Linked DNA regions of Homo sapiens: all the other regions are linked to region 1. Evidence: fine-mapped expression QTL. A gene starts in region 1. Each other region holds a variant in brackets. All regions are shown on one strand. Distances are between the middles of the regions. Region 1 holds the start of SLC13A3 (solute carrier family 13 member 3). Region 2 overlaps TP53RK (TP53 regulating kinase). Region 3 holds the start of OCSTAMP (osteoclast stimulatory transmembrane protein). Region 4 overlaps EYA2 (EYA transcriptional coactivator and phosphatase 2).

Evidence for each region. PIP is the estimated chance that this variant, and not a neighbour inherited with it, causes the effect.
Region 2: its variant is fine-mapped to the expression of SLC13A3 in whole blood (TOPMed, PIP above 0.99).
Region 3: its variant is fine-mapped to the expression of SLC13A3 in adrenal gland (GTEx, PIP 0.98).
Region 4: its variant is fine-mapped to the expression of SLC13A3 in cerebellar hemisphere (GTEx, PIP 0.96).

What each region holds. Positions count from the first base shown.
Region 1 is chr20:46,650,157-46,652,842 of GRCh38, reverse strand. It overlaps SLC13A3 (solute carrier family 13 member 3), which reads left to right and starts at 1,384. Exons shown (of 13, transcript NM_022829.6): 1 at 1,384-1,532. The coding sequence starts at 1,422.
Region 2 is chr20:46,686,126-46,688,811 of GRCh38, reverse strand. TP53RK (TP53 regulating kinase) reads left to right here. Exons shown (of 2, transcript NM_033550.4): 2 at 1,581-2,686. The coding sequence ends at 2,059. Among named protein-coding and RNA genes, the nearest start is that of TP53RK-DT, 1.8 kb to the left of the region's middle. The variant G/A (reference allele first, on the strand shown) is at 1,665.
Region 3 is chr20:46,549,494-46,552,179 of GRCh38, reverse strand. It overlaps OCSTAMP (osteoclast stimulatory transmembrane protein), which reads left to right and starts at 1,526. Exons shown (of 3, transcript NM_080721.3): 1 at 1,526-1,663. The coding sequence starts at 1,620. The variant G/A (reference allele first, on the strand shown) is at 1,324.
Region 4 is chr20:46,978,277-46,980,962 of GRCh38, reverse strand. The region is part of intron 1 of EYA2 (EYA transcriptional coactivator and phosphatase 2); the gene reads right to left. Among named protein-coding and RNA genes, the nearest start is that of EYA2-AS1, 78 kb to the right of the region's middle. The variant T/C (reference allele first, on the strand shown) is at 1,038.

The sequences.
Region 1 (2,686 bases):
CACTTTGGAAGACAGGTTGACAGTGTCTTAAAAAGCTAAGCATTGCAAATACTGGGCAACCCAACAGTTGCACTCCTGTATGGTTACCTGAGAATAATCAGAAGTGAATAGAAGTGACTCACCCCCCTTAAAAAAAAATAAGAATAACGGCCGGGCGTGGTGACGCACACCTGTAATCCCAGAACTTTGGGAGGCCCGAGATGGGCGGATCATGAGGCCAGGAGTTCGAGACCAGCCTGGCCAAAATGGTGAAACCCCATCTCTACTAAAAATACAAAAAAAAAAAAAAAAAAAATTAGCCAGATATGGTGGCACACGCCTGTAATCCCAGCTACTCAGAAGAATTGCTTGAACCCGGGAGGCAGAGGTTGCAGTGATCCGAGATCGCTCCACTGCTCCCCAGCCCAGCCTGGGTTACAGAGTGAGACTACATCTCAAAAAAAAGAAAAAAAAACCCAAAAATAAGAATAACTCATCAGCAGCAATAACTCTCATTGAGCACCTGCTCTGCCAGACACTGCGCTAATCACATTACATGTGTTATCTCATTTAAACTTCCTAACAACCTTCTTGTCTGGTGTAGACTATTTTTAAAAATTTAACTTTTAAGTTCAGGGGTACATGTGCAGATTTGTTGTATAGGTAAACTTGTGTCATGGGGATTTGTTGCACAGATTATTTCGTCATCCAGGTATTAAGCCTAGTGCCCATTAGTTATTTTTCCTGATCCTCTGTCTCCTCCCACCCTCCAGCCTCCCATAGGCTTCAGTGTCAGTTGTTCCCCTCTATGTGTCCATGTGTTCTCATCATTTAGCTCCCGCTTATAAGTGAAAACATGCGGCATTTGGTTTTCTGTTCCTGTGTTAGTTTGCTAAGGATAATGGCCTCCAGCTCCATCCATGTTCCCGCAAAAAACATGATGTCCTTCTTTTTTGTGACTGCATAGTATTCCATGGTGTAGACTATTATTATCACCACTCCACTTTCAGGCTCAGAGGCTGTTGTTGAAGGCCACGCAGTGAGTAAGTGGCCGTGCCAGGATTTGAACCCGGGTAATAGGAGTACGCGCCTTAATCCTCGCCTTGTCATCCTCAGCCATCTCACAGGCGAGTAAACAGAGGCGAGGAGAGGATAAGCCAGCTGCCCCAGGCCACATTGCTGGGAAGCCAAGAGGCAAGGCCACACTGCCCTGCGGCTGGGGTCCCGTTTGCTAATTCTAGTGCCTAACTTTCTCCAACGTTCCCGGGCCTCTTTCACCCGGTCCCAGGGGCGCAGGCACCACCCTTTTCCTCCAGGAGGAGCAGGGAGAGGGCGGGTTCCCCAGCGCAGTCCCCTCCCCGACCCTCCCCCAGGCTTTAAGCCGGCGCCGGGGCCAGGCGGGGCAGTCCCGGGCCGGCCCGTACCGCCAGGCGATCGCGCTGATGGCGGCGCTGGCAGCAGCGGCCAAGAAGGTGTGGAGCGCGCGGCGGCTGCTGGTGCTGCTGTTCACGCCGCTCGCGCTGCTGCCGGTGGTCTTCGCCCTCCCGCCCAAGGTAACGCCTCCTCCGCCTGTGCGCCCCCGGTCAACCACAGGCGGGATCCTCTTCTCCCAAGCCTCCAAGTTGGGAGACCGCTGAGGTCCCAGTGTAGACAGGCTCCACCAGACCCCCTCGCCTTCCCTCCCTTGCACCTGCCGCGGACCGCTGTGAACGCTCCTAACGCCTCTTCCCTCTTCCCAGCTGCTCCTTAGAGCTTGAGTCCCACCCTGCCTTCTGGATCTCACTTCCATGGGAATAATTTCGTTTCGTTTCAGTGACAGGTTCTCGCCGGTCACCCAGGCTGGAGTGCAGTGATGTGATCATAGCTCACTGCAGCCTCCAACTCCTGGACTTAAGCGATCCTCCTTCCGCAGCCTCCCTAGTGGCTAGAACTACAGGTGCATGCCCAGCTAATTTTTTTTTAATAGAGATAGGGTCTCACTATGTTGTCCAGGCTGGTCTGGAACTCCTGGACTCAAGCAATTCTCCCACCTTGGTCTCCCATATACTGGGATTACAGACGTGAACCACTGTGCCTAGCAGAATTCTTTCTTTCCTGAGCTCTAATTCTGTGCTTGGTGCTGTATTGCACATTTCACGCGACAGTCACAATGAACACTTACTGGGTGCCAAGCTGTGTGACATGGTGCAAGTCACTTAACCTCTCTGAACTTCAGTTTACTCATGTGTAAAAATGGGAGAAATGATAGTGCCCACCCATAGGGCAGCGGTGAATATCAATGAGGCAATATATGTAAATCTCTTATAACTAAACCTTGTACAGAATAAATGCCCAATAAGCAGTGACTGGTCTTTTTCTGCACCAGGTCCTTACGTGATGAGGACGGTAAGATTCATGAGTGCTTACTACGGGTGAGGATTTGCCTTTTGTGTATCACTTTATTTAATCATTTCAACGCGTCTCAGAGGGGAAAGATTATTTGACCCATTTTCCAGAGGAGAAAACCAAGGCTCGGGGAGAGAAAGTGACTTGCTCAGAGTCACACAGCAAGTGACTATGTCGGTATTCAGTCCCCGGCTTGTCAGAATCCAGAACCCTAGCTGTTTTCAGTCTCCCCAAGGAAGTAACCCCTGTAAGATCAAAGGCCGCAGGTGGAGTTCAGGAGTCATAACTGAAATCAACACTAGTGGGGGCTGGAAGGAGATGG
Region 2 (2,686 bases), 36 kb before region 1:
TTTCGATCATTATCTTTCCATTTATTAGTTTTAAGAAACATGTAATGACAAGTACTTGCCCCACTGGAGCCAGGCTCCCTGGGTTGAAATACTAACTCTGCTGCTTGTGTAGCCTTTCAACAAGTTATTTAGCCTCTCAGCCTCGGTTTTCTCACCTGTAAAATGGGAGACATAGTAGCAGTATCCATGTCATAGGGATGTTGTGACCATTAGAGGAGGTATGTGTGTCACGTATTATGTTCAAATGTGTGCCTGGCACATAGTGCCCAATAAATGTTGGATTTCATTAAATTGCCTATTTTTTCATTAAACATCATTGTGCGCCAGCACCATAAACTTTGTCCTCAGATGAGAAAGTGACACTCAGAGAGAAGTAACTTGCCCAAGGTTACACGGTTACTAAGTGGCCGGTCCAGGCCCTCAGCTCCTTATGCCTCTGACTCAGAAGCCCTGGCTTTTTACTTTTACGCTTCTTGCCTTTCTTTTATCAGTATTTTTTAGGTACCAGTGGGTACCAGGACATTGTTAAGTGCTGGGAGATCTGGGTGGGGGATATTCAGTAGCCAACAAGCGGACACATTGCTGCCCTTTCAGAGACTTAAGATTTCATGAAGTTATTTGTGTATTCATATTTCTGTTTTCAGCCTCATGATCTGTTTCGTTAAGCAGAGATTGTATTATAGCTGGCTTGTTTATTGCTGTATCCCCATTGATAACATCTCTCAGTTTCTAGAAAAGTATACTGAGCCTGGTTGACTTTCAGTAAAGATTCATTGAGTTTATTGGAGCTATTGTTCCTTGTATAGTAGCAGAAACTGAGGCTTAGAGAAGTTAATGTAATTTTAAGATTAGATTAGACAACTAATAAGAAAAGCAGCTGGGATTTGAACCCTGTCCTCTCTGACTACGAAGATGAACCTCGAAGCTAGCACACTGCTTGGCCTCCTGTTTGTGTCCTCATCAGTAGAAACTGCTCTGACTGGGCTGTGCCTTGCTCTTTGTTTTTGTTTTTTGAGACAGTGTCTCACTTTGTCACCCAGGCTGGAGTGGTGCAGTGGCACAATCTCAGCTCACTGCAACTTACGCTCCCTGAGTTCAAGCTATTCTCCTGCCTCAGCCTCCCGAGTAGCTGGGACTACAGGCGTGAGCCACCACACCTGGCTAATTTTTGTATTTTTAGTAGAGATGGGGGTCTCGAACTTCTGACCTCAAGTGATCCGCCTGCCTCCGCCTCCCAAAGTGCTGGGATTACAGGCATGAGCCACCACACCCGGCCTTTGTTTTGTTTGTTTTTTAGAGAGTGAGTGTGACAAATGAAGTCCAGTGAGAAAGGGTGGTTTGGAAGGGAGGAGGAAGCTATGGCCTCCTCAGTTTAGCTGTGGGGTGTTCCCAGGCATAGTCCTGCAGTGGGCATGAGCAGGGGAATATTCCAGATGAGTTCAGTTGTACCATTTCCTGTAGCATTCCTCAATAGTCCTGAAATAAGTAGATATAGATGGAAAAACTGGCTTAATCTTTGAAAATTAAGTTTACCCGTTAAAAAAAATCCAACCCAATAACCACTTATGTCTTGATTTCAGGAATATCTGCCCCAGTTGTCTTTTTTGTGGACTATGCTTCCAACTGCTTATATATGGAAGAAATTGAAGGCTCAGTGACTGTTC[G/A]AGATTATATTCAGTCCACTATGGAGACTGAAAAAACTCCCCAGGGTCTCTCCAACTTAGCCAAGACAATTGGGCAGGTTTTGGCTCGAATGCACGATGAAGACCTCATTCATGGTGATCTCACCACCTCCAACATGCTCCTGAAACCCCCCCTGGAACAGCTGAACATTGTGCTCATAGACTTTGGGCTGAGTTTCATTTCAGCACTTCCAGAGGATAAGGGAGTAGACCTCTATGTCCTGGAGAAGGCCTTCCTCAGTACCCATCCCAACACTGAAACTGTGTTTGAAGCCTTTCTGAAGAGCTACTCCACCTCCTCCAAAAAGGCCAGGCCAGTGCTAAAAAAATTAGATGAAGTGCGCCTGAGAGGAAGAAAGAGGTCCATGGTTGGGTAGAAGAATGTGTATGACAACCACACACAGTGAAGCTCTTTTTTCAAAGTAAATTTGAAGAAATGCTACAAGTATGAGATGAGATCTAAGTAAAGGTGTTAAGATATTTTTAAGTGGTATGTGATCGTGTCATTATCATCTGCACTTCACTCAAGAGCTTACTATGTGTCTAAGTCATGTTCTAGGCAGAATTGGGTATTTAAAGTAAATTGAGGACAGGCTTCTCCCAGATTGTGACATGTATATCTCAGATACATGGGTGTGGCATTGAACCACATAATGAGAACATTATTCTCTTTTTAGTCCTTGTGAGACAAGGATGAAGTCTCAGTTGCTGATACTCGCTGAGCTTACTGGCCCTCTAACCCAGTGTTTTTTTTTGTTGTTGTTGTGTACATGTTATATTTATTTTGAAACCAGTTTAATGGGATACAACCAGCATTTTAAAAAATGAAATAGAATACAGCATGGAAAATATCAGTGTATTGTTTTATGAAACTTTCACGTGTATATATAGACCAAGGATATGTGCTGAGTTTTGATGTCAAATATATTTCTCTTTCAGGGTCATGATCAAAAAATGAAAAGTCTGCTTAACTCCAATTTCTCTTTTAAAAAAGCAGACTTACA
Region 3 (2,686 bases), 100 kb after region 1:
TGCAGACCTGGTAGCTGGCCTAACATCCTGCAGGGGTGCACTGTCTGGGAAGTGTGTTAGGCCCTCTGAGGGTTCTGGCCACAGGTATTCCATTCAATCGCTGTGTAACTATAAGAACGTCACTTCCCCTATCCAGGCCGCAGGACATTCCCCTTCAGGCCTGAGAGTGACCCAGGCAACATGTCCTTATAAGGGAAAGTGGCTGTGCCCCTACTGGTCCATCCCACAGAGGGGGAGCCTGGGGGGCTCAGGGGAGGCCTGCTGGGAGTGATGGGGTACAGAGATGCTGGAGAGGTGTCTGCATTCCAGGTAGGAACTGGCTTTCAGGACAGCCTGAAAGCAGACCTGCAGGGCACTAACTGCAGAGGGTGTGCGTGGGGAATTTACATTATTGAGTACCTACTATTTGCAGTACCAGCTGTACTATGAAGTAATCACGAGGTCTGTGAATTATCCCCTCCACAGCAGCAGAGCCCAGTGGCTAACTGGTATACCCTGAAGCCAGCCCGCTGGTTAGAAATCACGGCAGTACCATTAATAGCTGAGTGGCGTGGTTGGCGACGTAGCTCTCTGAGTCTCAGTTTTCTGAGCTGAAGAATGAAAATAACATCTTTACCATAAAGGGATGTTCAAAGTAAGTGTTCAGTGAATTTGAAGAGAAATTGTTTAGAAGAATGCCTGATACATAGTAAGTGCTCAATAAATGTTAACTGTTATTTTCATTAACTATTTTTTTTTGAGACGGAGTCTCGCTCTGTGCCCAGGCTGGAGTGCAGTGACGTGATCTCAGCTCACTGCAACCTTGTCTCCTAGGTTCAAGTGATTCTCCTGCCTCAGCCTCCCGAGTATCTGGAACTACAGGTATGCACCACCACAAACCAGATAATTTTTGTATTTTTAGTAGAGACAGGGTTTCACCATGTTGGTCAGGCTGATCTCAAACTCCTGACCTCAGGTGATCCACCCCCCTCAGCCTCCCAGAGTGCTGGGATTACAGATGTGAGCCACTGTGCCCAGCCTCATTAAACTTTTTTTAAGGGGAGAAAACCAGCAGAGAGATATGAGGTCACCTGCCCAAGGTCTCATAGCTAGGGAGGGACAGAGCTGAGATTTGAAGCGAGGTACAAGTCAGGCTAAAGACAGGAAGGGGGCTGGGGAAGGAGACCAGAGCCACTGCTCCCAGTACTTGGCAGGGGTCTGATTATCACCTGTGAGTCCCAAGAGCAGGGATCAGGCTCCCCTTGGGGCACACAACTATGGAGTGGGAGGGAAAGGGAAGCTGTATGGTTTCTCTGTGCCTCAGTTTCCTTCTCTGTAAAATGG[G/A]GCTAATTCTACCTTCCTGCTACCAAGATTAGAGACATCGCTTGGAAAAGGCTGTCTTTTCCTCTTCCCACACCTTCCACCCGCTCTTGCTTGTGGGCAGAGGATGAGGCAGCTTGCCCAACCCTCTGGGAGGTGGGCCCCGAAAAGGGCGGGACAAGGCAGCCAGGAGAGCTTCATTAAAGAGTGGAAAAGCAGAAGTGGCAGGGATTCCCAAGTCCCAGCGATTCCCCCACTTCCTCTCCACCTGCCACAGCTGCCAGCGACCGCCCGCCTGAAACCACTGCCATTTGGACAGCATGCCAGGCCACCCAGGAGCAGCTGAGCAACTTGTCAAGACCGGGTAGGTCTGGGGACTTTGGACACTGAGGGCTACAGGTGAGAAAACAGTCAGCCATTGGGGGTGATGGATATGAACCCAAATCTTCAGCTCTGCCATTCCTTGGCTATGTGACCTTAGGCAAATCCTCAGTTCTCTGTGAGCCTCAGTTCCCCATCTGTGAAATGGAAGTAATAATGACATCTACAAGACTGTTGCCAGAATTGAATGAGAAAACACATGCTTAGTACTTGGCACCTGCTTGGCTCAGAGGAAGCACTCACTAAACAGCAGCTAGTTTCCTTGCCATTTTCAATACCCCGTGCAGGAATTGTCATCCAATATGACTTAGGACTGGCTTTCAATCCTTAAAATTGTTTTTATTATTAGCTATTATTCCAAAAGCTACTGTGTTCCAAATATTAATTATATAGTAGAAGGGGGTGTTTAGTCCCAAATTCAAATGCCTTCGGGAGCTGGGAAGGGGTTGCACCTGTGGAAGGCCACCTGGGTGTGCAGACGGACCCGTTCATTGATCAGCAGGATGCAGTCTGCAGGGCTGCTCCCCTGTCAAAGGTGGGTAGTGGATACTCAGCTCCAGCTACCTGTTGCAAAGGTGGGAGCTCTAACCCAGATCTTCTTATCTCTCAAGAAAAGCTGGAAACCCAGATTTTAATGTGAAACTTCCTTATTTCCAAATGGGGGCAGCTTACACACACACACACACACACAGAGTGGGCCACAATAAGGCACATTTGCATATGATTCAGCCTTTAGGGCTTCAAGGTTGTGACCTTCACTCCAGCCCCACAGGCCTCACTGCATCTCAGCTTCCCACTGTTCTGGTTCTCCCAACTCCCTATTTCCCGATGGTCAGAGCACAGGACCTTTGCACACGCTGTTCCTTCTGTCAGGGATGTCCAACTCCCTTCTTCACCCACAAACTGACACTTGTCCTTCCACCCCCAGCTGGAATGTCACCTCTTCCAGGGAGCCTTCCTGACTCCCAGGTAAAACTGGGTCACTCTCCATCTATCCCACCCCAGT
Region 4 (2,686 bases), 330 kb before region 1:
AATATTATTCAGCCATAAAAAACAATGAAATCCTGTCATTTGCAGCAACATGGATGGAACTGGAGGTCGTTATGTTAAGTGAAACAAGCCAAGGACAGAAAGACAAATATGGCATGTTCTCAATCACATGTGGGAGCTAAAAAAGTAGATCTCATGAAGATAGAGAGTAGACTGTGATTACTGAAGGCCAGGAAGGGTGGTGGGGAGGATGAAGAGAGGTTGATTAATGGGTACAAATATACAGTTAGAAGGAATAAGAGCTAGTGTTCAATAGAACAGTACGGTGACTATAATTAACAATAGTTTATCACACATTCAAAATAGCCAGAGTATAGAGTAATTTGAATGATGCTAACATAAAGAAAAGATACATATCTAAGGGGATGAAATCCCAATTATGCTGATTTGATCTGTATACATTATATGAACGTATCAAACAGTCACATGCACCCTGAAAATATGTCCATCTATTATGTATCAATAAAAAACAAAACTAAACAAAATTGTAAAAAAAATTTCAGCACAGCGAGTTTTTTGTCTTACGAACCACACCGTTTTATTATTGTATTGGAGGAGACAATGGAGGAGAGAGGCCAGTCTCTGGTGTTTGAGGCTGCTAAAGGTCTTAACCTGGCCCTAATTATATTGCTTAGTTTACAGATACTAGAAATAAAAACAGCTCACAGTTACAGAGCATTTACGCTGAGGCTTAAATCTCTCTGCATGCACTGGCTCGTTTCATCCTATGAAGTAGGTAGAGATAAGGAGACAGGTTCAGAGACTGACCTGGCTAGTCAGTGGTAGAGTCAGGATTCTCAACCAGGTGATCTGGCTCCAGATCTGTGCTCTTAACCACAGCTTGCAAATAGCTCTGGATCACAATTTCAACTCAGGGCCCATCCAGCTCTAAAGTCTACTAAGCTACCCAGTCAGAGCACCAGACGTGTTATCTGCTCCAGGGGTTCAAATCCCAGCTATGTCGTTATCAGCGGTGTAACCTTGGGCAAGTTATTTCACTTATCTGAGCCTCAGTTCTA[T/C]AAGATGGAGAAAATAATACCCTCCCCGCCAGGTTATTCTGAGAAAAATGAGTCAGAGAAGGCACGAGTGAGTGGGTATTCAACAAAGGGCAGCTGAGATTATTTGCATGCACACAGACAAAGGCTTGAAACACACCATTCGTTTCATTCCAGGTAGACACTGGAAACTGTCATCAGGATCACCCGGAAACCACTGGTTCCTATTGTGGTTTGAGGGGCAGAGTTGAGCTCTGCTGCACTTTGGTGGGGAAGGCTTCCTTCACATTCTCCCCACTCTTCCCCACCTCACAATTACCTGAAATTGGAGACCAGCTTATTCTCTATGCAGGGGAAGGAAGAGAGAACTCAGACAGCCTTCAAGGAATCTGGGGTAGGAGAAAGACTTAGCTTCCCTTTCACGAAGGCAGGGAAGGGAAAGGAAGGAAAAGCATGGAATTCATTTACAAAAAAAAAAAATTCTTTCTTTGTTGCATTGTTGCAAAACCCTGATAGCCTGGCTACTTCAGAAGACAGCCTGAAGGAGCGGGAAGAAAGAGGCATTCAGGAACACCCTCCCTCTGGCCCCCTTGGCCTGCTGCTGCCTGCGGCTTGTGCCATTTGTTACCCTTGTCACCACCCCTGTCCCTGGGGACTGGGAAGAAGTGGGGGAGCCCGAGAGATGACAGCTGGAGGGTGGGGGCAGGGGCAGCTTCAAAGGCTGGGAGGGATCAAAAGCAGATGGAGGGTCCCAGGCGGGTGGGCCGCTCACCTTTCCACACCCCCGTGAGTACACCAGCTACCTTGGCTGAGGATGGTGGCCCTGTCTGTCAGATGCAGAGGACAGATGGCCAGTCGGCTAAGGGGACTTTGGAGAGGGTCACTCCCAGCATCCTTCACGGGCTGAGAAATCAAAGCCTGCTGACTTCAATCACAGGCTTCTGGACAGACAGCAGCTGTGGCCCAAACCTGGACGTCTCTGACAGCCTCCACCAGCCTCATTCAATTTCCATTCAAAATACATCTGTGAATCACAAACCATCTTGGCTTCCCCCATTTCGGGGGCAGTTGCTCAAACCAAAAGCTCAGGATTGCTCTTACTTCTCCCTCTCCTTCAATGCTCACGTCCAATCCATCTCCAGGCCTTATAAAGTTCACCTCCATGGCCATCGCCCAGGTCCAAGCCACCATCCTCTCTGCCCAGGAAGACCACGGCAGCCCCCCTGCCCACCTCCCTGGGGCCACCGGGGCCTCCCTCCAGTTTGTTCTCTGTGCAGCAAATGACAGCATAAATCTGAACCTGCCCGCCTCACCTCATCCTTGCTTATAACCTCTGACGGCTTTCCATTGCTCTTAAGATAAAGCAAAGAGTTCCGAACACAGCCTTGATCTGGCTTCTCCTTGTCCAATATCTGATTCCAGCACGCTGGCCTTTCTCTCGCTCCACACTCCCTCTTGCCACAGGGCCTTTGTACATGCTGTTCCCTCTGCCTGGAACTCCAGTCCCTCCTGCTCACCCTGCAGAGGCCTCAGTTCCGGCAGGATTTCCCCAGGCTCTCCCTGAGTAAGCGATTTCCCTCCTGCAGCTTTCACAGGCCCATGGCCCTCTATCACACACACCAGTCACTGTAACAGTTTTTACAGGTGTTTGTGAGTTATTTAATTTCCCTAGG